Regions from separate parts of the Homo sapiens genome. Here regions 2 and 3 are each linked to region 1. Evidence: fine-mapped expression QTL. A gene starts in region 1. Each other region holds a variant in brackets. All regions are shown on one strand. Distances are between the middles of the regions.

Region 1 (8,025 bases):
TGCTGCGCATATACTGGGTTACACAGAGATTGCCAGCTTTGAGTGAGGCTCAGAACAGGAAAGAGCTCTCCAGGCTGTGACACAAGCAGCCCTTTTGAGTGGACTGTAAAATCTGGCACAGCTTCTCATGTTGGAGATGTCAGTGATGGAAAAAGATGTAGTATGGCATTTATGGTGAGTCCCAATAGAGGAATCACAATGCAGACTCCTTGGATAGTGTAACAAGGTCATGCCAACTGCAGTGAAGGATTACACTCCTTTCAGAAAACAGCTCCTACTTTCTACTGGGCCCTGGTGGAGACACCAAGTGATCATGGATTCAAAACTGGCTGCCATCAGCTACGTCCTGTTAGACACACCAAGTGATAAGGTCAGGGCGGGTCAGTATCAAAGCCATCATAGGATAAAACTGGTACATCTGGGACTGAACACAAGTGGGACCAGAGGGCACACGCACACTCAAGCTGCATGAGCAATTAGCCCAGATTTCCATGTCATTCACTACGGTTGCACCAGCACCCCTCCCCCAGCCTCACCTGTGGTCATGTGAGGGGGTCCCATATAACCAGCTAAAGGAGGAGGGAAAAAGACCAAGTTTGCGTTAAGGATGGGCTAGCTTAATATGTGGGTACAAGCTGAAAATGCATGGCAGCTATATTACAGTCTCACTCAGGGAAGTCCTTGAAAAACAGTGGTAAGGGAAAATCTCCCCAGCGGGAGGAGCTTTGAGAGTGTACCTAGTCATCACTTCGTATGGAAGGAGTATGGCCTAGGGTTAGAACATACATGGTCTCATGGGCAGTGATGGTGGCCTGGCTGGGAGTTTGGGAGCCTAAAAGTAAAAGGAAGCATATGAATAGATGTATGGAAGTGGGCAGTTCATATCACATTAAGACCCACAAAAGATGTGCCAACTACACAAAATAACTTGGCCAGTTAATGTTGGCCAGGCTTAGTGACAGGCCCCCTCCCCCACTGCTGCTCAAAGAGGCCATGGTGGCCAGGAGATGGAAGCGATGCAAGAACCTAACAGCATAGATTATCATTTGCCAAAATAAACACAGCTACTGCCACCTCTGAGTGTCTGATCTGCCAGCCATAAAGACCAATGCTAAGCTCTATTCCTTAAGGAGACCAATAGACTACTTGGGGACCAGTAGACTGCATCGGGCCCCTTTTGTCCTGGCAGAACCATCGGTGGTTCTCACAAGAAGAGGCAGTTATTCTGGATTTGGGGTTGCCCTTCCTCCCTGCAGAGCCTCAGTAGTAGCACTCTTTTTTTTTTTTTTTAGATGGAATTTCACTCTTGTTGCCCAGGCTGGAGTGCAATAGTGCGATCTCAGCTCACTGCAACCTCTGCCTTCTGGGTTCAAGCGATTATCCTGCCTCAGCCTCCCAAATAGCTGGGATTACAGGCGTGTGCTACCACACCCGGCTAATTTTGTATTATTAGTAGACACAGGGTTTCACCATGATGGTCAGGCTGGTCTGGAACTCCTGACCTCAAGTGATCCCCCTGCCTCAGCCTCCCAAAGTGATGAGATTACAGGCTTGAACCACCGTGCCCGGCCAGTAGCACCACTTTCTGGAGACTTAAAGATTGCCCGATCCACAGACATGGAATCACACTTAACATAGCATCTTATCAGGTGAATCTTTTCATGGCACAGAAAGTGGAGGGAATGAACCCATGAACATGGTACTATCCATGGTCCTATCATACACTTCACCACCCAGTAGCTATAGGATGAAGTATTGGAATGGCTAGTTAAAGATGGAGTCAAGCACCAGAATGGAGCTGATACCCTACAATGATGACACAGACTCCAGAACATCGTGGTATATGCCTTGAATCGGTCAAGTTAGTATGGTACTGTGTCCATACATGAGTCTGGAAAGAATGGGTAAGCCTGAGTGGCCCTACTTAGTATAATTCCAATGACCCCCTGCAATTTCCTCTCCCAGCAATGCTGGGCTCTGCAGAGTTATAGGTCTTGGTTCCCCAAAGGGGCACACTCTTGCCTGGAGATACCACAGAGATCCCACTGGACTACTGTGATGGCTGTCACCAGGTACTTTGGCCTCCTAATGGTCAGAGACTAGCAAGTAAGAAAGGGAATGGCCATCTTATTCGAGGTAACTGTTGCTGGTCAGCAGGAGGTGTGGCTGTTGTTACACAATGTGGGCAGGTGGAATATGTATGGAATTCTGGTGACCTATTTTGGTGTCTCTTGGTAATCCTTTGCCCAGCTGGGACTGAGATGTGCTCAGACCACTTTCAAATAGGGCACCCGACCAGATTAAGCTACTGAGAGCAGCTGAGGTGGTGGCCAAGGGTGAGAGGGATTGGAATGGATAGTGGTAGAGGGATATGATGAGGACCAGACCACCAGCTGTGGCCTTGAGACCAACTGCAGTGACAAGGACTATAGTTCATTCCACTAATTTCTCTCTGGTAAGCTTCCTTGTAGGAAGAGTGACCCTGAAAAGCCTGTTCCCTAAATACAAATGGATAAAGAAAGCCATGTAGTACAAAGGGTGGACTACAGCTGACACAGGGTGGCACTCAGGTCAAGCTTGCAGCCCAGCTTTGAGGAGCATGTTTAGCCAATATCCTCCAGCTTTAGCTCTTTCAAGATCTGCCCCAGCATTCGAGCTGAAGTCATCCACTTCTCTGGTGGCCCCCACCGGTGACTGAGCAAGGCAGTACAAGGGCCTAGCCTTTTCTGTCCAAAGCTGGACTCCTACTCCAGAGCTCCTCATTGGGCTGGCAGAGACTTTGTTAGGTCCGCACAAAAGTCTGATAGGCCCCATGGATCAATCATGCTTTTTCCTTTGACTTTTTCTGGCATTATGCCCCAGAAAAAGTGCAGAGAAAGTTCTGCACTCTTAACTCCATGTCAGGATCTCCTTCCTGGAGAACCCAATCTCTGATGGCACATATTTCAAAATTTTTCAAAATGTCTCCTTTTCCCTTCCCAGAACTCCTTAAATCACCTTTCTCTTTCACTTTCCCTTTCTTTTTTCCTTTCACTTTCCCTTCTTTTTTCCCCTTTTCCTTTTCCTTCCTTTTTTTCCTTTTCCTTCCTTTTCCCCTTTCCTTTCCCTTCTTTCCTTTCCCTTCCTTCCTTTCCTTTCTCTTCCTTTCCTTTCCCTTCCTTTCTTTCCTTTCCCTCCCTTTCCCTTTCCATTTCCCTTTCTCTTTCATTTTCACTTTCCCTTTCCCTTTCTCTGTCACTTTCCATTTCCGTTTCCCTTTCCCTTTCCCTCTCTTCCCTTTCCAAAAGGATCTTCCTCTGTTGCCTTTGCTGGAGTGCAGTGGCACAATTGTAGCTCACTGCAACCTTGAACTCCCGGGCTCAAGAAATCCTCCCGCCGCAGCCTCCCAAGTAGTTGGGACTACAGGCACATACCACTATGTCTGGCTAATTTTTATTTTTAGTGGAGATGAGGTCTCGCTATGTTGCCCAGGTGGATCTCACAGTATGTTGCCCAGGATGGTCATGATCCTCCCGCCTTGGCCTCCCAAAGTGTTGGGATTACAGGCACAAGCCACTGCACCTGGCCCTTAAATCATTTTTCATGGCTTCAAATTGGAGGAGATTCTATGTCTGTACTCCCAACCACTGTAGCCAAACTAGACTCTTCAGTCTCTCATCTTCTATATTCCCATTGTGGCATTTACCCATGAATTTGCTTATATTTCCATGCATTTTTTCATGTCTTCGCATACATGCTCCTTGAGTGCAGGGACTGTTTTTTAAACTTCTGCATGTCCTTACATTACTAACTAATGTAAATACCACATAGAAGATAGTCAATAAACATCTAGAACTTAGTTGATTTGATAATAAAAGGTCCCTGGGAACCTGTCAGACCACAAATAAGGCCAAGTGGATTAAAAGACAACTATAGAAGCAGCAACTAGAGGGAACAAGATGTCCCTCTTAGACATCCTAAGATGATCCTATGTGGCCCCCATGTTTGGCTGGTTTTCATAACAAAGTACTCTATTCCTGAAAGAGGGTTTATATACCATGAATGACAAAACTGAGGAGAATTCTCATTAATCATTTTGAAGAATTTCTAAGTTAGCAACCAGAATCTATTATTTTTTAAAAAGATGTATTTCTTATCTGATCAAATGACCCATCTATTTTATTTGAAGATGTTGGAAAAAAAAACCTTTTTTCTCTTCAACTTGTGTCCTGTCTTTGGGGGCCTAAAAATTAACTGGCACTAGACAGATAAATAGGAGAAAAGACAAAGTTTATTTACACATGCATGCAGGAGCTTCCAGTAACAGAAAACTCAAAAGTAAAGGTTTATATACCTCAACTTAACAAAAAGGAAAGTTTTAGGGCTTCAGTAGGAGAGTTTGGAAGTTTTGATTGGGTTGTTTTGTGTTTTTGAGACAAAGTCTCAGCGCTATCCCCCAGGCTGGAGTGCAGTGGCACAATCCCGGCTCGTTGCAGCCTCCTCCCGTGCTCAAGCAATCCTCCCACCTCAGGCTCCCGAGTAGCTGGGACTGCGGCTGCACACCACCATGCCCGGGTTGTTTTTATTATTATTATTATTATTATTATTATTATTATTATTATTATTATTGAAGAGAGCTCACTATGTTGCCCAGGCTAGTCTTGAACTCCTGGGTTCAAGCAATCCTCCCACTGCCTCGGCTTCCTAAAGCGCTGGGATTACGGGCTGAGCCACAGCACCCAGCCCATTGGGTTTTTTGGTGCTAATGGTAATGGGACAGTCTGTCTTCCTGGCAGCTGAATACTCCGAGAGGCTTTTAATGGCACCATGTTTTCGGGAGGTTTTGCTTTAGTCAGATAAGGGAAGTTTCATTAAGATTTCTTTCTACATCTTCTGTAGCTCAATGTTTTCACTTAAAAACAATCTTTATGTCAACTCTGGGGGTCAAAGTACGTCCCCACGGTGGAAAAGTTCTTGTCCCAATCTCTACGGGGAGGAACCGATCTGAAATCTTGGGATATGTCTTAGCATGTCCACCGTGATTGAGGTACAAGCAGTGGTTCAGGGCACCGAGTTAGCGATTCTAGGTAAGCAAGACCATGTCAAGAAGTGGTTTGTCCAAAAGTTCGTGAGAAGGCAGAAACGAGGGAGAGTGGCAATCGTTGTTCTTTAAGAGGGCACGGTGGTGGAGGAGAAACTTGCACATCGGGGCCTGGGGTACCACGATCTGGGGCCTGGGGACGCGATTTGGGGAAACTCGGTGGCATCTGGGCTCCGCTTGATGCCAGTGCGTGTTCGTGCAAGTTACTTCCTCAAGTTCAGGGTGAGGATAATAATATCTACCATGTGGAGTTGCTGGGAAGATTCACTACCAACAGAGGCAGAGCGCACGGCTCGCAGGAAGCGCTCGCTAGGGTCTGCTCTTTCCGGGAATGGGTGGGGTGCGCACTCCTCAACAGGGCTCTCAGGACTTGCGTCACACGCCTCAGTCGGCTGGCTTATAAAACACCGGCCAGAGCCCCAAGATCGCTTTTAGTTTCTCTTCTTTCTAAAGAAGGCTCGCGGAGCCCGGCTGGAGAACCTCACCCTCGCCGAGCCTAGAACCGAGAGGGGGCCACCCCAGGCGGTCACCAGCAGATTTGCCCGCGCGTTCTCTTTCTTTCCACCCAGTTGCCCTTGCGGCCGGCTGTAAACCTGCCACTAGGACCCGGTCGGTGAGATCTAGCCTCTTGACCTGAGAGCCGAGAGTGGATCGCTGGGCTGGGCTAACGGCGACGGAGAGCGCGCCCTCGCTGACTCCGGGCGCGCCCAGCAGTAGCACCGCCCGCGCCCGCCCCTGGACACTTGTAAGTTTCGATTTCCGATTTCCGCGGAACCGAGTCCCGCGCCGCGGCAGAGCCAGCACAGCCAGCGCGCCATGGCGGACCCGGAGGTGTGCTGCTTCATCACCAAAATCCTGTGCGCCCACGGGGGCCGCATGGCCCTGGACGCGCTGCTCCAGGAGATCGCGCTGTCTGAGCCGCAGCTCTGTGAGGTGCTGCAGGTGGCCGGGCCCGACCGCTTTGTGGTGTTGGAGACCGGCGGCGAGGCCGGGATCACCCGATCGGTGGTGGCCACCACTCGAGCCCGGGTCTGCCGTCGCAAGTACTGCCAGAGACCCTGCGATAACCTGCATCTCTGCAAACTCAACTTGCTGGGCCGGTGCAACTATTCGCAGTCCGAGCGGTGAGTGCACCCGGAGGGAGGGGCGCTGTCCGCAGCCGTGGTCGGGGTGGACTGTCCAGGCGGGCAATGTTCTGGGAGGGGCACGGCTTCGCCGGGACCCCGCACCTGACAGCCTCCGCCTCCAGCCACTCCCTTCTCTGCTCCCCTCTGGGAGCCTCTGCAGGGCCCGCGCTTCTACCTTTGCAGTTCCCTTCCTTCCGGCACCTCCAGACATTTTCTCGAGAATGGCTAAAATGCTAGTGCCTGGAGGAGACCAGGCTCAACCTCCACCCCTTTCCCCGCCCGCCCGCACGAATCAGAAGAATAAAGTGCTCTGGAGCCAGCCAGGGCCTAGAGAAGCGGTAGGCAGGTTTGGGAAGGAAGGAAAGAGCCTCCCGTCTTTGGTATCTTGAGTCTTTCCCTCCCTACTACCTCCTTCCCTAGACGTGGCGGAGCCAGTAACCCAGCCGCCCTGGGCCCCCGGTCCGTCTCCGCCGGAGCGAGCCGCAGGTCTCTCTGCTTGTCCCTCCCTTCCCGGTCACCCCCATGCCCCTCATCACCGCTTTTCTGATGCCTGGCGCGTAGCAGGGGTGGCCCTTTTCCAGGTTCCTGAAGTTGTAGCAGCCGCGGGCCTTCCCTCCGGGTGGTCTCTCTACGGTGGCGCGCGCAGTTGACCGCCTGCCTTGGGACAACTCTCTTAAATCCCTTTGAAGCAGTGTGGCTCACGTCTCGGGCCACTGCTTCTGTTGTTTCCGTTTGCCTTTTTTTTTTTTCGTCTAAATGCAGATGCGCTGCAAGGTTTGGGTTAAGACTCTTGAGTGATTTTCTTCCCAGTTTCTCCCTAAGAGAGCTTGCTCCCTCGAGGACAGCTGCACATCTAAAAAGATGGCTTCCAGGTCCACATTCGCTGCCCAGGCCTTTCCCTTGATCCCAAGCCCTTCCTCTCCCGCGTGTGTCCTGTCCATGGAGTCAAACTCATCTTTTCCCCCAGGCAGGGTTTTAATCCTCCTCACAATCTGTCATCACCAAGTCCTTTTTGTGAAGTCTCTTTCCCTTCTTGGCGGATTCTGCCTTCCCATCTAATTTCTGAATGAACTGAATGAACGCCTTGTTGAATTAATGAATGGCCAGTCTTTCCTCCCACCCTTTCTGTCACTATGTGCTCTGCTCAATTACTTTTCTCGATACAGTACTTTTTACACTTGGCCCATTCTTAAACACTTTGACTTGTGTCCCAGGGTTTAAAATGGTTGTCAGCAAACTTTTTAGGCTGGAGTGCAGTGGCTCCACCTCGGTTCACTGCAACCTCCACCTCCCAGGTTCAAGCGATTCTCCTGCCTCAGCCTCCCGAGTAGCTGGGATTACAGGCATGCACCATCGCACCCGGCCAATTTTTGTATTTTTAGTAGAGACAGGGTTTCACCATGTTGGCCAGGCTGGTCTCGAACTCCTGACCTCAGGTGATCCACTTGTCTCAGCCTCCCAAAGTGCTGGGATTACAGGCATAAGCCACCAAGTCCGACCAGTCGGCAAACTTTTGATCACGCACCTAACAAAAACTCCAGTCACTCACCCCCAATATACGTGTAATAAAACACACAAAGGTAAGTGTTTTAGATGGATGAGGTAGAGGACGCAATGTATTTTTTTAAAAATTTCTTTAGAGCAAAAACCCTTTCAGCTCACTCTAACGTTTTTAAAAAGTGCTTGAATGTGTTCCTTTATTTAAAATTTTCTTTAATATGTTGTGGGGCAACAATTTGAAGGTTGTTTCTGAGTTGCTGGGAGTTATGGGTATCGAGGAAATCATCTAAGTCATTGCTGGTCACTGAAGAAATCTCT
Region 2 (11,051 bases), 52 kb after region 1:
AAACGTCGACTCTTCATACCTGGAGTCTCTCTATCAATCCTGTCCGAGGGGAGTTGTGCCATTTCAGGCGGGCTCACGGAACTATGAGCTGAGTTTCCAAGGTGGGTTTCTGTGTTTGGCAGTGTTGTGTGTCATTGAAATCCGCCTGCAGTGTACACGTGGGAGTGGGAGCAGAGTGGGTATGCATTGCTATGGCCAGGGTCAAGGTCAAGATTTAGCAAGGCGGTGGAGTGCAAGCTAGTGGCCATCAGAAGACCTGTGTTCTAGAGCTCTGGCTGTGACGAACACTTGCTCTGCCACCCTAGGAGGGGCACCTGGCCTATCTAGGCCCACTTCTCTCAACTGCAAAATCAGGGGCTCAAACTAAGTAGTCTTGGGGGTACTTCCAGCTCTGCCATGCTGTTTCTGATTCTGGGTGGGCAGCTGCCCAGGGAGAGGCAATATTTCAGGTGCTGGTGACTACGGTAGAGGCCTTGGGCTTTTGGGCACCTTCAGAGTTTTAGAAACTTGCTGTTTCTTTTAGGGTTTATCATCTAGGTCAGTAGTTCCATCATCACATTGATTAAAGTACTTTGCCTTCCACCGTGTTTATTGGAGCTACTATAGAAAGGTCTTCTGGTGAGCTGCCGCCAATCTACCTGCTGTGTTTAGTTAGATATCAGGGCAGGAACTGCCCTCCTTCTGAAGGTACCATCCCATTGGGCACCCCCTGCACATGATCAAGTGCTTGCCCTTTCGGGACTTGCAGGTGCTTTGGAAGAGGTAAAGGAGCCTTTCTGAGGTCCCTGAATTCGCAGATGGTACCTGCAGTTGGATCCTGTACCGCTTAGTGGGCCTTAGATGACGTAGCTTTTACAAGGACCATTATACCAAGTATTTGGAAAAACAGTCTGGCAGTACATGTCAAGTGACATTAAAATATGCTAATATGTTTGTCTTTTCATTCCCTTAGGAACCTTTCTTAGGAAATAATTCACTAGAAGAAGGGGGGAGAAAAGCTATAGGCATAAAGTAAGGTGCTTGTTAAGCAGCATGGTGTGACCGAAGAATACTAGACCAAAACCAGTACCTATAGTACTAAAAGTAGGACCAGTCTGTACCAGTGCAGTGGTGACTAAATAAATTAGGGTATTAAATTTCAGTGGCGTATCTGGCACTTGTTAAAGATTTTGATTATGAAAACTAGATAGGAAGAGCAAAATTTGGTGTTGTTAAATGAAAAAGGCAGAACACTTTTTTTTTTTTTTTTTTTTTTTGAGACAGGGTCCCACGCCATCACTCAGGCTAGAGTGCGGTGATGCCATCACGGCTCACTGCAGCCTCAACCTCCCTGGCTCAAGCGATCCTGTCACCTCAGCCTCCCAACTAACTGGGAGTATAGGTTCATGCCACCATGCCCAGCTAATTTAAAAATTTTTTTGTACAGATGGGGATCTCACTTTGTTGCCCAGGCTGATTTTAAACTCCTGAGCTCAAGCGATCCTCCCACCTCAACCTCCCAAAATGCTTCGATTACAGGCATGAGCCATAGTGCTCAGCCAGAACCCCAAATTTATGTTTCTGAAATTTTGTTTATATTTAAAATAGGAAAGTTAAAAAAAACACAAAAATCAATGTGCATGATAATTGCAGCAATGCATGCATGTGGGCCGACTGGAAGATAATAAAGAAAAATTAAAATCTCTTCTATTGGGTGGTAGAATTAAAAATGACTTAAATTAAAAAAATTCTTAGGTGGTATTGTATTGTTTTTATGGTTTAAAAGGGTGGTGGAGAGATGAGAGCCAATAGACTTTGTTCCTGAATCTAGAGCAATTTGTCCAGCTACTTCTGTTTGTTTGGTTCATAGAAACCAGTTCAGAGCAATTTATGGGTTCCTAGTGTTCCAGATGGCTTTTTCTTTTCTTTTCTTTTTCTTTCTTTCTTTCTTTTTTTTTTTTTTTTTTTTTTTTGAGACAGAGTCTCGCTTTGTCACCAGGCTGGAGTGCAAAGGCGCAATCTCGGCTCACTGCAACCTCTGCCTCCCAGGTTCAAGCAATTATCTTGCCTCAGCCTCCCAAGTAGCTGGGACTACAGGTGTGTGCTACCACACCTGGTTAATTTTTTGTATTTTTAGTAGAGATGGGGTTTCACTGTGTTAGCCAGGATGGTCTCAAACTCCTGACCTCGTGATCCACCTGCCTCAGCCTCCCAAAGTGTTGGGATTACAGGCGTGAGCCACTGCACCCGTCCGCCTTTTTCTATTCCTGAACTAGACTGCAAGTGTATTCTGTCATGCATTAAGCTAGTATCTGAGTGCCAGCTGTGTACTGGCTCCTGTTGTGGGTGCTGGGATACAGTGATGAAGTTGCTCTTCGAGCCTGTATTCAAAAGGGTGGTGAGAGACAATGGTCAAGTAAACAAGTCAGGCCATTTCAGAAAGTGGTAACAGTTACTGAGAAAATGAAACGGTGGAGAAAATGAAACAGTGCAAGGAAGCAGCCAGAAAATGGAGGAGTCAGTGGGACAGCACTTACTTTTATAGACCAGCCTCTGCCTGTGGGAAGGAGGGCGCTCCAGGAGGAGGAAGAACTAAGGCTAAGGCTGGAAGGTACAGACCAGCTTGAAGTTTCACAGAACAGGTAGATGGTCTGTAAGAGATGAGAGCAGTGATAGAAACTTGGATATTTTATTAGGCGGAGGTCCCGGGAAGATTTTGAGCAGTGTTGTGGCATGATCTGATTTGCTTTGTGTGTGTGTGTGTGTGTGTGTGGTTTATGTTTGTTTCATATTTTAAGAGTGCAGTTGGATGAGTATTGACAAATGCGTGTAACCACCACCCTAAGCAGGATATAGAACATTTCCATCAATCCCGAAAGTTTCCTTATGTCTCTTTGCAATCAGTTTCCCCAGCAACACCACATACACCTCACTTTATCCCCATCACAGGCTATTGCTGATTTGCTTTCTGTCCCTGTTTTACCTGTTCTAGAATTTGATATTAATAAACGCTTGCAGTAGGCACATTGCATGTGGCTGACTTCTTTCACTCTGGAATAATGTTTTTTAGACTCAACCGCGTTGTTGCATGTATAGTAGTTGTTCCTCTTTTATCACTGAGGAATAAGTAATAAGTTATTGTAAGGCTATTCCATAGTTTATTTGTTTACCAGCTGATGGACACTTAGGTTATTTCTCCTTTTTGGTTATCATAATAACGCTGCTGTGAGCATTCACGTGCACATCTTTGTGTGGATACAGGTTTTCATTTCTCTTGGGTAAATACCCAGAAATGGGATTGCTAAATCACATAGGAGTGCATATTTAACTGTATAAGAAACCACCAAACTGTTTTCCAACGTGGTGGTTTCATTTTACACTCTCACTAGCAATGTATTATGACTTACTTTCTGAAGGGTTCACTCTGGTTACAGTTTGGACTGAGGTTTACGGCATGAATTGAAAATGATATTTCACACTTGATGTAGAAAAGAACCCTTCAAGACAGCTACCAGATTCCAACCCGTAATCACTGATGTCTGGTGTAGGGAAGCTTGAAAGGATGGTGTCTTGTTATTTGGCTGCCCCAGCTCTCCTCTTTTACCATCCAACTTGGATTTAAAGATGAGATTAATTCCTGAATATTCATTCACTCCTTTGCTTTGAGCCTTCTACTAATGGCAGTGAAGGATACAAGTCTTTTACTGTGAGCAATTCTCATCCCAAAGGATTTTCTCTATTCGTATACATACAGGTCAGTCTTGAATATTTGCCGTGTAAATAGCCTCTGCAAAATAACAAGAAGTCATTTTCTAGGGCTGATCTTGATTCTCACTGCTTTTATTTTTTTTTCTGTCCAAAGGGATGATTCAGACAAACATAGCTTCCAAAACTCAAAAGGATGTCATCAGAAGACCAACATTTGTGCCTCAGTGGTATGTGCAGCAGATGAAGAGAGGGCCAGAGTAAGTGTTCTGAAGCAGCTGTTTGCTGACAGATGCTTGAGATGTTCATGCCCTGGGCTCATCAAGTCACTCGTGAATCTGGAGCCTGTTTTCCTGAAAAGTTCCTGTTTGCATTACTCTGCAGTTTCCATTTGCATTATCGATGAGTAAGATGCTTGTTAAGCAGCATGGTGTGACTGAAAGGATACTAGATCGGAAAATGAATTTTCTTTCTGAAAGGGAAGTCTGAGCGAGTCTCCTAAATACTCTGGGCTTTAGCTTCTCCAGCTGTGAAGAGCTGGATTGATGCAGTACACCTAAGGAATAATCATATATACTGGGTTTTTGTTTTGCTGTGGATTCTTTTTTTTTTTTTTTTTTTTAGAGGGGGTCTCACTTTGTTGCCCAGGCTGGTCTTGAACTCCTGAGCTCAAGTGATCCTCCTACCTCAGTCTCCCAAAGTGCTGGGATTACAGGCATGAGCCACCGTGCCTGGCTTTGCTGTGGATTCTTTTGGGTGTCTTTTGTTTTCCTACACGATTTATAGAGGATGAGGGGCGGAGAAAGAGATAGAAAAAAGGGATGAGCTAGCTGTTAGAGCAAGGGTTTTGGTGAGAGATAATATTGATTGAAGGGATTTTAAAGGAAATGTTGCTGTGGGGGATTCATTGTAACTCTCCTTGTGAACTGCTCAGTAAACTCTACATTGTTCATGAACATTTTTGGAGTTGGATATTTTTTTTCTGGGTGATGTGTGATTACATAAAACAGGCTTCAAGAGAAGTATAAAATCAAGGTGTTCTAACTAGGTTCTTTTGGTTGTAAGAATTCAAGCTATTTGATGAAAAAGGAAGTTACTAAAAAGATAAATAACTATGAAGTCATATGGAAAACAACTCGCAAGAATCTAAGAATGGAAACTGAGCTATATCAGGGCCTCAGGAAGGGGAGTTGCTTCCTATTCTGCTTTAGAACTGCAGCAGCCTAGAGTCAAAGATTCTTTCTTGGGACCAGGTTAACAGCCTGGATGCTGGATCTAGCTCACCTAGGTTCAAATTCCACCTTGCCACCCATTAGCTGTGTGGATTTGGACAAATGAATCACTCTGTATATCCTCATCTGTAAAATGGGCTTAATAATAATACCTTCCTCACGGTTGCTTGGGTAACACATTCCGAACACTGATCAGGTGTTCAGAAAATGTTAACTGCTCTGGTTATTATTATTTTTATTCCCCTGCTATTAATAGACTTAGTAACTATATATATAATTAAGTTGACTTAATTCTAATTCATAATTCCAACCTGCATATCTCTTCAGCCTTATCTTCTGCCACTAACTGCCTAATTTTCTCTGAATTTCTCAAGTTGATTTCCCAAGAATTAGAATCTGATTGGTGTAGCTATCTAAAGTCCCTTTCAGTAAATTTTTTTTTTTTTTTTGACAGAGTCTTACTCTGTCACCCAGGTTGGAGTGTAGTGGCACAATTTCGGCTCACTGCAACCTCTGCCTCCCTGGTTGAAGTGATTCTCCTGCCTCAGCCTCCTGAGTAGCTGGGACTACAGGCACATGGCACTATGCTCAGCTAATTTTTGTATTTTTAATAGAGACAGGGTTTCACCGTGAGGGCCAGGCTGGTCTCGAACTCTTGACCTCAGGTGATCCACCTGCCTCAGCCTCCCAAAGTGCTGGGATGACAGGCATGAGCCACTGCACTTGGCCCCTTCCTGTAGTTTAAATATTCAAATTAATAAAGTAAAAAGAATATTTCAGGGTTTAGGGAAGAGAGGAGTAAATCTCATGCCCTCACGGGAGCTTACATTCTGGTGGATGAGGCAATAACTATTTCAGTTCCTGACAAATGTTAGGTGGGGGAAAAAGGCAGAGTAGGAGGATGGGGAGGGGCTGTTCACATTCAGCCAATGAATGAGATCATCAGAGCTGCTTTCCATTCGTTACAATCGTTACAATCGTTCTGGCAGGATGTCTTCACAAAAGTGTGTTGGAACTGTCTTTCCTTAAAGCAACAAAACTGCATTTTTTTTTTTAAAGTTCCGGTAATTTTGATTTTTTAACAATTCAGATACTCCCAGTTAGTCTCAACTAGTGAGACCATGCTTTATGGCCCTTCCAGACAGCAGGAACTGTGGAAAGCATAGTAAACCTTGACGCCAAGCTGGATGGTTCTTTCTGTGCACATGTATTTCTAGGGGAAAAAATTGCTTTGTGGCATTTCCAGATAGCTCCTGTAGTCAGCCATTGTCGATCTCAAGAACTTCCATATGTCAGAGTTGCTTCGTGCTTTTCCATTTGCTCTTCCCCTCTCCAGGAATACTCCTTCCCGTCATTCACATGAATACAGCACCCCTCACGATTTAGCTGGAATGCCACTTTCCCATACTATAACATTCCTTGTGATTCTCCTCCAATTCTCCAACACTCGAGATTCCCTTATAGTACTTACCCACTTCTACCTTGTAATACAGTTACTTATGTAAATGTCTCTAGCACAACCTTCCCTCCTCCTCCCTTCCCCCTCCCTCCCCACCAACCTCAATTATCAGCTCCTCAGAGCTCTTGAAATATTTTGGTGTTTTTTTGTGGGGGGGGGGGGGGTTGGGGGTTAGGTTGCTGGGGTGCAGTGGCGCAATCACAGCTCACTGCAGCCTCAACCTCTCGGACTCGGGTGATCCTCCCACTGCAGTCACCCAAGTAACTAGGACTATGGGTGCACACCGCTACACCTGACTAATTTTTTTATTTTTTAATAGAGACACGGTTTCTCCAGGTTGCCCAGGCTGTCTTGGAATAGTTTGTATAATGCATGGCACATAGTGATAATAAACAGCCACATGAATAAAAAAAATAAATTAGAAAAACATGTTAGTGGGGGAGGGTGGGGGGTGGGTCATGCAGAGAACCAAATTTAATCCTGCTCTCACTAGCCCAAGGAGACACACTTGCTGTAGGATAGAATAAGGGCTGGGGTACTATCCTGAACTACAGTGGGACATAGAAGTGAACTACGGCACACGTCACTGTTCATGGGCATCTTACAACATATTCATTCAGTCTATCCCATGTTATACAAATCCAGAATGGAAACCTGACCTTAAAATAGAGATAAACTGGGGCCAATCTTTCTCATTCTAATGAGTCACCTTCTTCTTTAAAGAGTTTTTTCCTTCAAGCATTTATTTTTTAAAATGTAATTGTTGGCCGGGCGCGGTGGCTCACGTCTGTAATCCCAGCACTGTGGGAGGCTGAGGTGGGCGGATCACGAGGTCAGGAGATCGAGACCATCCTGGCTAACACGGTGAAACCCCATCTCTACTAAAAATAACAAAAAAATTAGCCGGGCGTGGTGGCGGGCGCCTGTAGTCCCAGCTACTCGGGAGGCTGAGGCAGGAGAATGGCGTGAACCCGGGAGGCGGAGCTTGCAGTGAGCCGAGATCGCGCCACTGCACTCCAGCCTGGGCAACAGAGGGAGACTCCGTCTCAAAAAAAAAAAAAAAAAAAAAAAATGTAATTGTTTTGATCATGGAAAATTTCAAACATAAAGTACAAAGAATTGATAATAAACCCCTGAGTACCTATCATCCAACTTAAACACTGTCAATATTTTACTATCTTTGTAACGTATTTGTAGTAGTGGTAACAATATTGTTACTACCATCACCTCTAAATTTTTTTTTTCTTTGAGAAAGAGTCTCACTCTGCATGCAGGTTAGAGTGCAGTGGTGTGATCATGGCTCACTGCAGCCTCAAACACCTGGATTCATGTGATTCTCCTGCCTTAGCCTCCTGAGTAGCTGCAACTACAGCCGTGCACCACCACACCTGGATAATTTAAAAAAAATGTTTCTAGAGATGGGGAGGGGGATCCCACTGTGTTGCTCAGGCAGGTCTTAAACTCCAGAGCTCAAGCAATCCTCCTGCTTCGGCCTCCCAAAGTGCTGGGATTATAGGGATGAGCCACCACACCTGGCCTAACTTTTTTTCTTTTGCTGGAATATTTTAATGTAAATCCAATACATGTTATCATTTCCCTGTATATATATTAGGTGTCTTCCTAACAGGTAAGAGGTTTTAAAAAACATAATACAATATCATTAACCTATGTAACAAAGTTAATGATAATTCCTTAATATCATCTAATACCCAGTTCACGTTTTATGTTTTCCCATTGTCTTAAACAATGACTATTTAGAGTTGA[G/A]GTATTGCAAATCAGTATCTAAGCAGGGTCTGTACATTGTGTTTGGTTGATTTGTGTCATAAATATCTTTTAGTCTACTACAGTTTCCCCTCCTCTACTTTTTTCATGCAATTTCATTTTTAAGAAATCAGATAGGCCAGGTGTGGTGGCTCATGCCTGTAATCCTAGCACTTTGGGAGGCCAAGGCAGAAGGATTGCTTGAGCCCAGGAGTTTAAGACCAGCCTGGGCAACATGGTGAGTTGAGACCCCATCTCTACAAAAACTTTTTAAAAAGTTAGACAGGTGTGGTGGTACACACTTGTGGTCCCAGCTACTCAAGAGGTTGAGGTGGGAGGATCACTTGAGCCCAGGAGGTTGAGCTGTCTTTGCACCATTGTACTCAGCCTGGGCAACAGAGTGAGACTGTCTCAAAAAAAAAAAAAAAGAAAAGAAAAGAAAAAGAAAAAGGAAAAAAAAAAAACAATAAAAACAACGACTAGGTGATTTGACCTATAGAATTTTCCAAATTCAAAATGTAGAAAATTAACCTGGCATGCTGGCTGATGCTTATAATCCTAGCACTTTGGGAGGTTGAGGTGGGAGGATCACTTGGGCTCAGGAGGTTGAGGATATAGTGAGCCATGATCACACCACTGTACTTCAGCCTGGGTGACAGAGTGAAACTCTGTCTCAAAACAGATTAGCAAATTGTTTCCTCATGGGGTCATTTGATGTGTAATTTCTATAAATTGATCATTAGATTTAGGGAACTGATTAGATTTAGGTTCAGTTTTGAGTCAAGTATGCTATACAATTGATGGCTTCGTACCAGTGGTTCTGTCCCATCTTATGAAGAGATATACAGTGTCTGATTGTCCTATTTTTAGTGATGGAGATCACAGAGTAGGTTCAGGTCATTCCAGTCTGATCATTCCACTATACTATTCATCTGATCTTTCACTTAATGGTTTTAGTAGCTAATGATAATGATTGTTTAGAACCATGATGTCATTAAGTATTGCCAAATGGTGGTTTTCTAATTCTATCAACTCTTTTGCAACTATTAGTGTGATTCATCTATAAAGAAGAATTTTTCTGGTAGCTTTAGCTCTATGGGATAGAAAAAGAAAATTACTTCTCAGGTATGGTTACCCTGAAATACAGTTCATACTGGAAAGGCAGAATTCTTTCCTCTAAATTCCTAATATATTTAATCGTTTATCCTTTGACCAAGAAGCTGTAAGACACATTTGCTTAATGCTAACACATTAGGACCTTTGAAAGTTGAGCAGAAATATAAAAAAGAGTCAATACTTTTACATTTTAAGTCAATAGGAAAATGGCATTTAATTGACCGATTATGAATAGTTGCAGCATTTTTAAAAGACATGATTACTGGTACATCTATACCAGGAATATGTGAGGATGTAGTCCAGAGAAAAATACAGAAATAAATATTGTGTATTTCTCTAGGCATCCTTGGCCTAGTGGCTGGAAGTTAAGAGAAAACATCACTTGGGCCTGTGGAGCAGAGAGTTAAGTGAATTCTTTCTCTTTATTTGTAGCCATCAGCCAGCAAAGACCTCGTCAGTGTCTTTAACTGCGACCTTTCGTCCTCAGGAGGACTTTTGCTTCCTATCCTCAAAGAAATATAAGGTACTTGGTTTTACATGTTTGGTGGATGAGTCTGTTAAAAGTTAGAAAAAGTACTTTGCTACAAGTGTATGTGTTTGTCTGGATGAATGAATTGCTCCCGCAAAACTCTTAGATCGGCTGGGTGCAGTGGCTCAGCCCTGTAATCCTAGCATTTTGGGAGGCCGAGGCGAGTGGATTGCCTGAGCTCAGGAGTTCGAAACCAGCCTGGACAACACGGTGAAACCCTGTCTCTACCGAAAATACAAAAAAATTAGCCGGGCATGGCGGCATGAGCCTGTAGTCCCAGCTACTTGGGATGCTGAGACAGGAGAATTGCCTGTACCCGGGAGGCGGAGGTTGCAGCGAGCCGAGATCGCGCCACTGCACTCCTGCCCACTGCACTGCAGCCTGGGCGACAGAGTGAGACTCTGTCTCCAAAAAACAAACAACAACAACAAACACTCTTAGATCAAGGTAGAAAGGCAGTCATCTAATGGTTCTCTTTCCCAGAGATCACCTAACTGCTACAAGGCACCTCATTGTTTCCAGAGTTCAGCCACACACAGTCTCATTTGGGCAGATCCTCGCAACAGCCATGTGAAATGGATATTAACATCTCTATTTTATGGACAAGAAAACTAGAACTCACAGAGTAAAAGTGACTTGTCCGTTAGTTACAATTAACAAGTTTCTATGGGAGTCAAACAAACTGTGCCTCACTGTGTCACTTAACCTAGTTGGATCACAACTATTCCTAGATTGCTTAGCCTCCCCATGCTGGCTTCAGCTTTTGTGCAGGCTGGTCTGCTTGGACTGCATGGCACCTCAATTCCTCTTCCCTTGCATTGGGAAGAGGTTACTGGACTAACTCAGACTGCAGGGGACTTCCCTTTTCCCTTAGGCACAGTGCTTTGCTAGCTTTCAGTTGGCCTGGACAGACAGGCCCGCTGCCTCTCTGATTAATTACGGGAATGAGTTGGCAGATGTGGGAACCCTAAGCCAGCTCATCCTATCTGCTGTTAGAAAGAACCCTGGTAACAATACTTCATGGCATAAGGGGGCACATATGTGGATGTATCATGCTTTAAATGTTTCCTATTTCACATTTATCTATTTTTAAACTTTATTAGTTGTCAGAGATCCATCACCTACATCCAGAATATGTCAGAGTAAGTGAGCATTTTAAAGCTTCCATGAAAAATTTCAAGATTGAAAAGATAAAGAAGATCGAGAACTCAGAGCTCCTGGATAAATTTACATGGTTGGTGGCCACGTTATCGTGTTTCTTTACATAAAA
Region 3 (5,598 bases), 61 kb after region 1:
TAAACTCTTGCATCCAATTTTTTTTTTTTTTTGAGACAGGGTCTCACTTTGTCACCCAGTTTGGGTGACAATCTCGGCTCACTGCAGCCTCAACCTCCTGGGCTCAAGTGATCCTACAACTTCAGCCCCTCAAGTAACTGGGACAACAGGTGTGTGCCACCACATCCAGCTAATTTTTTTTTGTTGTATTTTTTATAGAGACAGGGTTTCGCCATGTTGCCAAGGCTGGTCTCAACTCCTGAGCTCAAATAATCCGCCTACCTTGGCCTGCCAAAGTGCTGGGATTTCAGGCATGAGCCACTGCTCCTGGATGCATGCAACTCTTTTTTTTTTTTTTTTTTTTTTTGGAGACAGAGTTTCGCTTTTATTGCCCAGGCTGGAGTGCAATGGCTCGATCTCGGTTCACTGCAACCTTCACCTCCTTGGTTCAAGTGATTCTCCTGCCTCAGCCTCTCAAGTAGCTGGGATTACAGGCATGTGCCACCACGCCCAGCTAATTTTGTATTTTCAGTAGAGACTGGGTTTCTCCATGTTGGTCAGGCTGGTCTAGAACTCCTGACCTCAGGGGATCTGCCTGCCTTGGCCTCCCAAAGTGCTGGGATTACAGGTGTGAGCCACTGCGCCTGGCCTGCATGCAACTCTTAAAAACAAACAAACCAGAGGGGAGGGGGGTGGGGGGAGGGATAGCATTAGGAGATATACCTAATGCTACGTGACGAGTTAATGGGTGCAGCACACCAACATGGCGCAGGTACACATATGTAACAAACCTGCACGTTGTGCACATGTACCCTAAAACTTAAAGTAAAATAACAATAAAATGAAAAAAAAAGAAAAAAAGAGAAATATTTATGAATGTAAATGTTTATTGTCCATTTTTAACTAATAAGCAAGCTTACTAAAAACTGCACTTCACACTTAGCTTAATGTTTGAGGGAATTAACTTCATAAATAAAAACTAGAAAATTAAAAAAACAAAAAAAAAACTAAGAATCAGTCATCTTTAGGAAATAAGTAATAGTTTATCACAGATTCAAAGTGAGTTCAACTCATACAACTAGGATTAAATTCAATTCTTGCCCCAAAAGGCAAGAAGTCAATCAGCCAGTCAGCAAATATTTTTGAGTGTCTTCTGTACACTAGATGGTGGGTACACAGTGGTGAACAAGTTAGACATGGCCCCAAACACATTTTGCATAATTATCTTACATAATTAATTAAATGACTGTGGCCAGGCATGGTAGCTTAGACCTGTAATTCCTGTACTTTGGGAGGCTGAGGTGGGAGGATCACTTGAGCCCAGGAGTTGGAGACCAGCTTGGGCAACATGGCGAGACCTTATCTAATTTTTTGTTTTAATTACAAACAAATTTTTTTAATTACCTGGGCATGATGGCACATGCCTGTAGTCCCATCTACTCAGCAGGGTGAGGTGGGAGAATTGCTTGAGCCCAGAAGTTTGAGGCTGCAGTGAGCTGTGATTGTGCCACTGTACTCTAGCCTGGGCGACAGAGCAACATTTTGTCTCAAAAAAAAAAAAAAAAAAATTAAATGATTGCAAATGTTGGGCTGCTATAGAGAAAAATAACAGATCCAGGTCAGGCGCGGCAGCTTCGCCTGTAATCCCAGCACTTTGGGAGACCGAGACAGGCAGATCACTTGAGGTCAGGAGTTCAAGACCAGCCTGGTCAACATGGTGAAACCCCGTTTCTACTAAAAATACAAAAATTAGCTGGGTGCAGTGGCCCATGCCTGTAATCCCAGCTACTTGGGAGGCTGAGGCAGGATAATCGCTTGAACCCGGGAGGCAGAGGTTGCGGTGAGCTGAGATCATGCCATTGCACACCAGCCGAGACTCCGTCTCAAAAAAAAAAAAAAGAAAAAAGAAAAAAAGGAACAGGTCCTGTGGACAACTAACCCAGCTAGAGAGGTGTTCCCAAGGATAGAGATAGAGTAGGATTCCCCTGCCTTGTAGAGTCACCACATGGCGGAGAAGGGAGAAATGGAACAAGGTATGACCATAAAGAGCTAAACTTGACTGTAAGCGCATGGGAAACTAATGAAAGGTTTTAAGCTGGGGAATGAATTTATTGATGAGATTTCATAAGTTTATTAAGTTTAAATGTATCAGTGAAACTTACCTAGAAGTGTTTGGAGGAAATGGGAAATGTAGTAACCATCTTAAGTGACATATGATAGGTGAAATTAAAACCCATCAGTTTCTTACAGGTCTATCCTATGTTAGAATTCAAACAAATATTTATCCTAAAAAATGAAATGTTAGGCTAGGCACTGTGGCTCATTCCTGTAATCCCAGCACTTTGGGAGGCCGAGGTGAGTGAATCACCTGAGGTCAGGAGTTTGAGACCAGCCTGACCAACATGGTGAAACCCCCCCATCTCTAATAAAAATACAAAGTTAGCTGGGCGTGGTGGCACATGCCTGTAGTCCTAGCTACTCGAGAGGCTGAGGCATGAGAGTTGATTGATCACAAGAAGGGGAGGCTGCAGTGAGCTGAGATCCTGCCACTGCACTCCAGCCTCAGTGACAGAGGAAAACTCTGTCTCAAAAAAGAAAAAAATAAAGCACTCAGAAATGTAGGAATAGAAATGAACTTTCTTAACACAATAAAGGGAATTTTAAAAAAAGAAAATATAGATTCCAGATTATATAAGTGTGATATAAAAAAACTGATGCAACAAAAACAAAAATGGACAAATGAGATAGCATCAAACTAAAAAGCTTCTCCACAGTAAAGGAAACAATTAACAAAGTGAACAGACAAACCCACAGAGTGGGAGAAAATATTTGCAAGCCATACATCTGATATGGGATTAATATCCAAAATATGTAAGGAACTTAAACAATTCAACAGCAAGAGAACAAATAACTCAATTTTAAAATGTGCAAGCTGTTCCCATAAGTGGCCTGCGGTGATCTGTGAAAATGGTTCACTATTCACTTGACCCAGAAAACTCCATGAAATCATGCAAATAAAGAGGTTCAAATCTTCATGTTCACTCTAAGGACACCCATGAAACTGCCCAGGCCATCAAGAGTACGCCTATATGAAAAGCCAGCAAATGTCTGAAAGATGTCACTGTATGGAAACAATGTGTACCATTCCAACGTTACGAGGGTGGAGTTGGTAGGAGTGCCCAGACCAAACAGTGGGGCTGGGCACGCAGTTTGTGACCCCAAAAGAATTGAATTCTTGCTGTACACACTTAAAAATGCAGAGAGTAATGCTGAACGTAAGGGTTGAGCTGTAGATTCTCTGGTCGTCGAGGATATTCAGGCGCACAAAGCACCCAAGATGTGCCACCAGACTTCCAGAGCTCATGGTTGGATTAACTCATGCCTAAGCTCCCCCTGCCACATAGAGACAATCTTCCTGAAGAAGCACACCGTGTTCCTAAACCAGAAGAGGAGGTGCACAGAAGAAAAAGCTATCCTAGAAGATACTGAAGAAGCAAAAACTTACAGCA[C/T]GGGAATAAATTCAGCGTAAAATACATGCAAATAAAAGTTTCAAAAATGGGCAAAAGACTTGAATAGACATTTCTCAAAAGAAGAAATACAAATGGCCAATGAGTTCATGAAAAAATGCTCAACATCGCTAATCATCAAGCAAACGCAAATTAAAACCACAATGAGCTGTTGCCTCGCACCGATTAGAATGGGAGGCTGAGGTGGGAAGATTGCTTGAGCCCAGGATATCAAGGCTGCAGTGAGCCAAGATTGCACCACTGCACCCCAGCCTGGGTGACAGAGACCCTGTCTCAAAAACAGCAGCAACAACAACAACAACGAAAAAAAAAAAAAAAAAAGGAGAGAGAGAGAGTTGGATGTACTGACATAGCAAGATTTCTAGGACTAAAGTGGAAAAAAAAGTTGTAGAACAGTTCATATATTATGATCCTATTTATGAACAAGTAAACCACCATAAACCACCATATGCACATATATGTATGTGAATGCATAGAAACAGGTGTGAAAGAATTCCCGCCAGCCATAAACTGTTTTGGGAAGGGGAGTGGGATTGGACGTCGTAGGTCAGTATAGGTAGACTTCCATATTTTACTTTAAATATAGTAGAACATCATTTGCACAGAATATCTAGTATCTGACCTATTCAGGATAAGCAATGTTTCTGGAATTCAAACATCTAACTATAAAATGATAAAAAGAACAAAAACAAAGTAGATGGGAAGTATATTAAACATTTGTTACCACAAGTAAAACAATTCATTTTACTTATTGATTCTTGCATGGAAATAGGAGTTGCAATATCTACTCATGGTCTTTAAAACGACAGAGTAGCTTTCTTAGAAAATATTATTAGTATTTTTTGATACAGAATCTCACTCTGTTGCCCAGGCTGGAGTGCAGTGGTATGATCCTAGCTTACTGCAGCCTCAACTTCCTGGGCTCAATCAATCCTGCCTCAGCTTCCTGAGTAGCTGAGATTACAAGTGCACGCCACCATGCCCGGCTAATTTTTAAATTTTTTGTAGAGATGGAGTCTCCCCATGTTGCCCAGGCTGGTCTCAAATTCCTGGGCTCATGTGATCCACCCGCCTCAACCTCCCATAATGCTGGGATTACAGACATGAGCCACTGCACCTGCCCAGAGTAGCACTTGACAATGATAAAAATAAAAATTTTAACTTGGCAGGAAATTGTTGGTCTGCTGTGTATGGAAGCAGCAATCGTTATCTGAGGTTGTTTTAGAGTTGAGGACGAAGCATCAACTGACTCATCAGTTCCAAGTTTGCTCATTCAGCTCACACTGGGTGAATTGCATGAATTGGGCCACTGTGACATTGTCATTTGGTCATTGCACCCAATGGCTCACACTATCAGCATGAGCTCTGCACTGTAGCAAATATTCCTCAGTCATTTCTATAGGGTTATATACTGTATTTAAGTTCGCCTGCATCATTAACATGTTTTTAAGTGCAAAGGAAAGTTTATAAATATCAGTAAGGTATTATTGACATATGCTTAGTCCACACCCATCTGACTGTATATAACAAATCTTATAAACTGTATACCTTCTTTTATAATATTTCTTAACTTTTCTTTCTGATTCTTTCTAGGAATTTACTTTGCAAAAGATGCCATCTATTCCCACAAAAATTGCCCGTATGATGCCAAAAACGTCGTTATGTTTGTAGCCCAAGTTCTGGTTGGAAAGTTTACTGAAGGAAATATAACGTACACGAGCCCTCCTCCACAGTTCGACAGCTGTGTGGATACCAGATCGAATCCCTCCGTTTTTGTCATCTTTCAGAAAGATCAGGTTTACCCACAATATGTGATTGAATATACTGAAGACAAAGCCTGCGTGATTAGTTAGAACCGATGAATACAGCGTCAGAAGGATGCCATAACCATTCTGTTCCTTTACAGAACTAAATTGCCGCAGACAGGAGTTAAAGTTTTATATTTTCCTGCTCAGTTATCTAATGTCTTAGATCAGTGGTCCCCAAATTTTGCTACATATTAGAATCATCTGGGAGGTTTTAAACAAATTCTGATGCCCAGGTTGCACCCCATGCCAATGAAATCATTTCTGGGCGTCAGCGCCAGGCAGTT

The links. PIP is the estimated chance that this variant, and not a neighbour inherited with it, causes the effect.
Region 2: its variant is the best candidate, but not a certain one, in a credible set for the expression of ZC3HAV1 in whole blood (TOPMed, PIP 0.88).
Region 3: its variant is the best candidate, but not a certain one, in a credible set for the expression of ZC3HAV1 in whole blood (TOPMed, PIP 0.88).

What each region holds. Positions count from the first base shown.
Region 1 is chr7:139,107,203-139,115,227 of GRCh38, reverse strand. ZC3HAV1 (zinc finger CCCH-type containing, antiviral 1) reads left to right here and starts at 5,508. Exons shown (of 13, transcript NM_020119.4): 1 at 5,508-6,204. The coding sequence starts at 5,897. RefSeq lists enhancers at 5,400-5,559, 5,352-5,855, 5,800-5,899, 6,480-6,609.
Region 2 is chr7:139,053,929-139,064,979 of GRCh38, reverse strand. ZC3HAV1 (zinc finger CCCH-type containing, antiviral 1) reads left to right here. Exons shown (of 13, transcript NM_020119.4): 8 at 1-101; 9 at 3,842-3,944; 10 at 9,685-9,775; 11 at 10,885-11,015. Among named protein-coding and RNA genes, the nearest start is that of MIR10399, 15 kb to the right of the region's middle. The variant G/A (reference allele first, on the strand shown) is at 8,140.
Region 3 is chr7:139,047,355-139,052,952 of GRCh38, reverse strand. It overlaps ZC3HAV1 (zinc finger CCCH-type containing, antiviral 1), which reads left to right. Exons shown (of 13, transcript NM_020119.4): 13 at 5,100-5,598. The coding sequence ends at 5,359. It also overlaps the pseudogene RPL17P28. Among named protein-coding and RNA genes, the nearest start is that of MIR10399, 6.0 kb to the right of the region's middle. The variant C/T (reference allele first, on the strand shown) is at 3,489.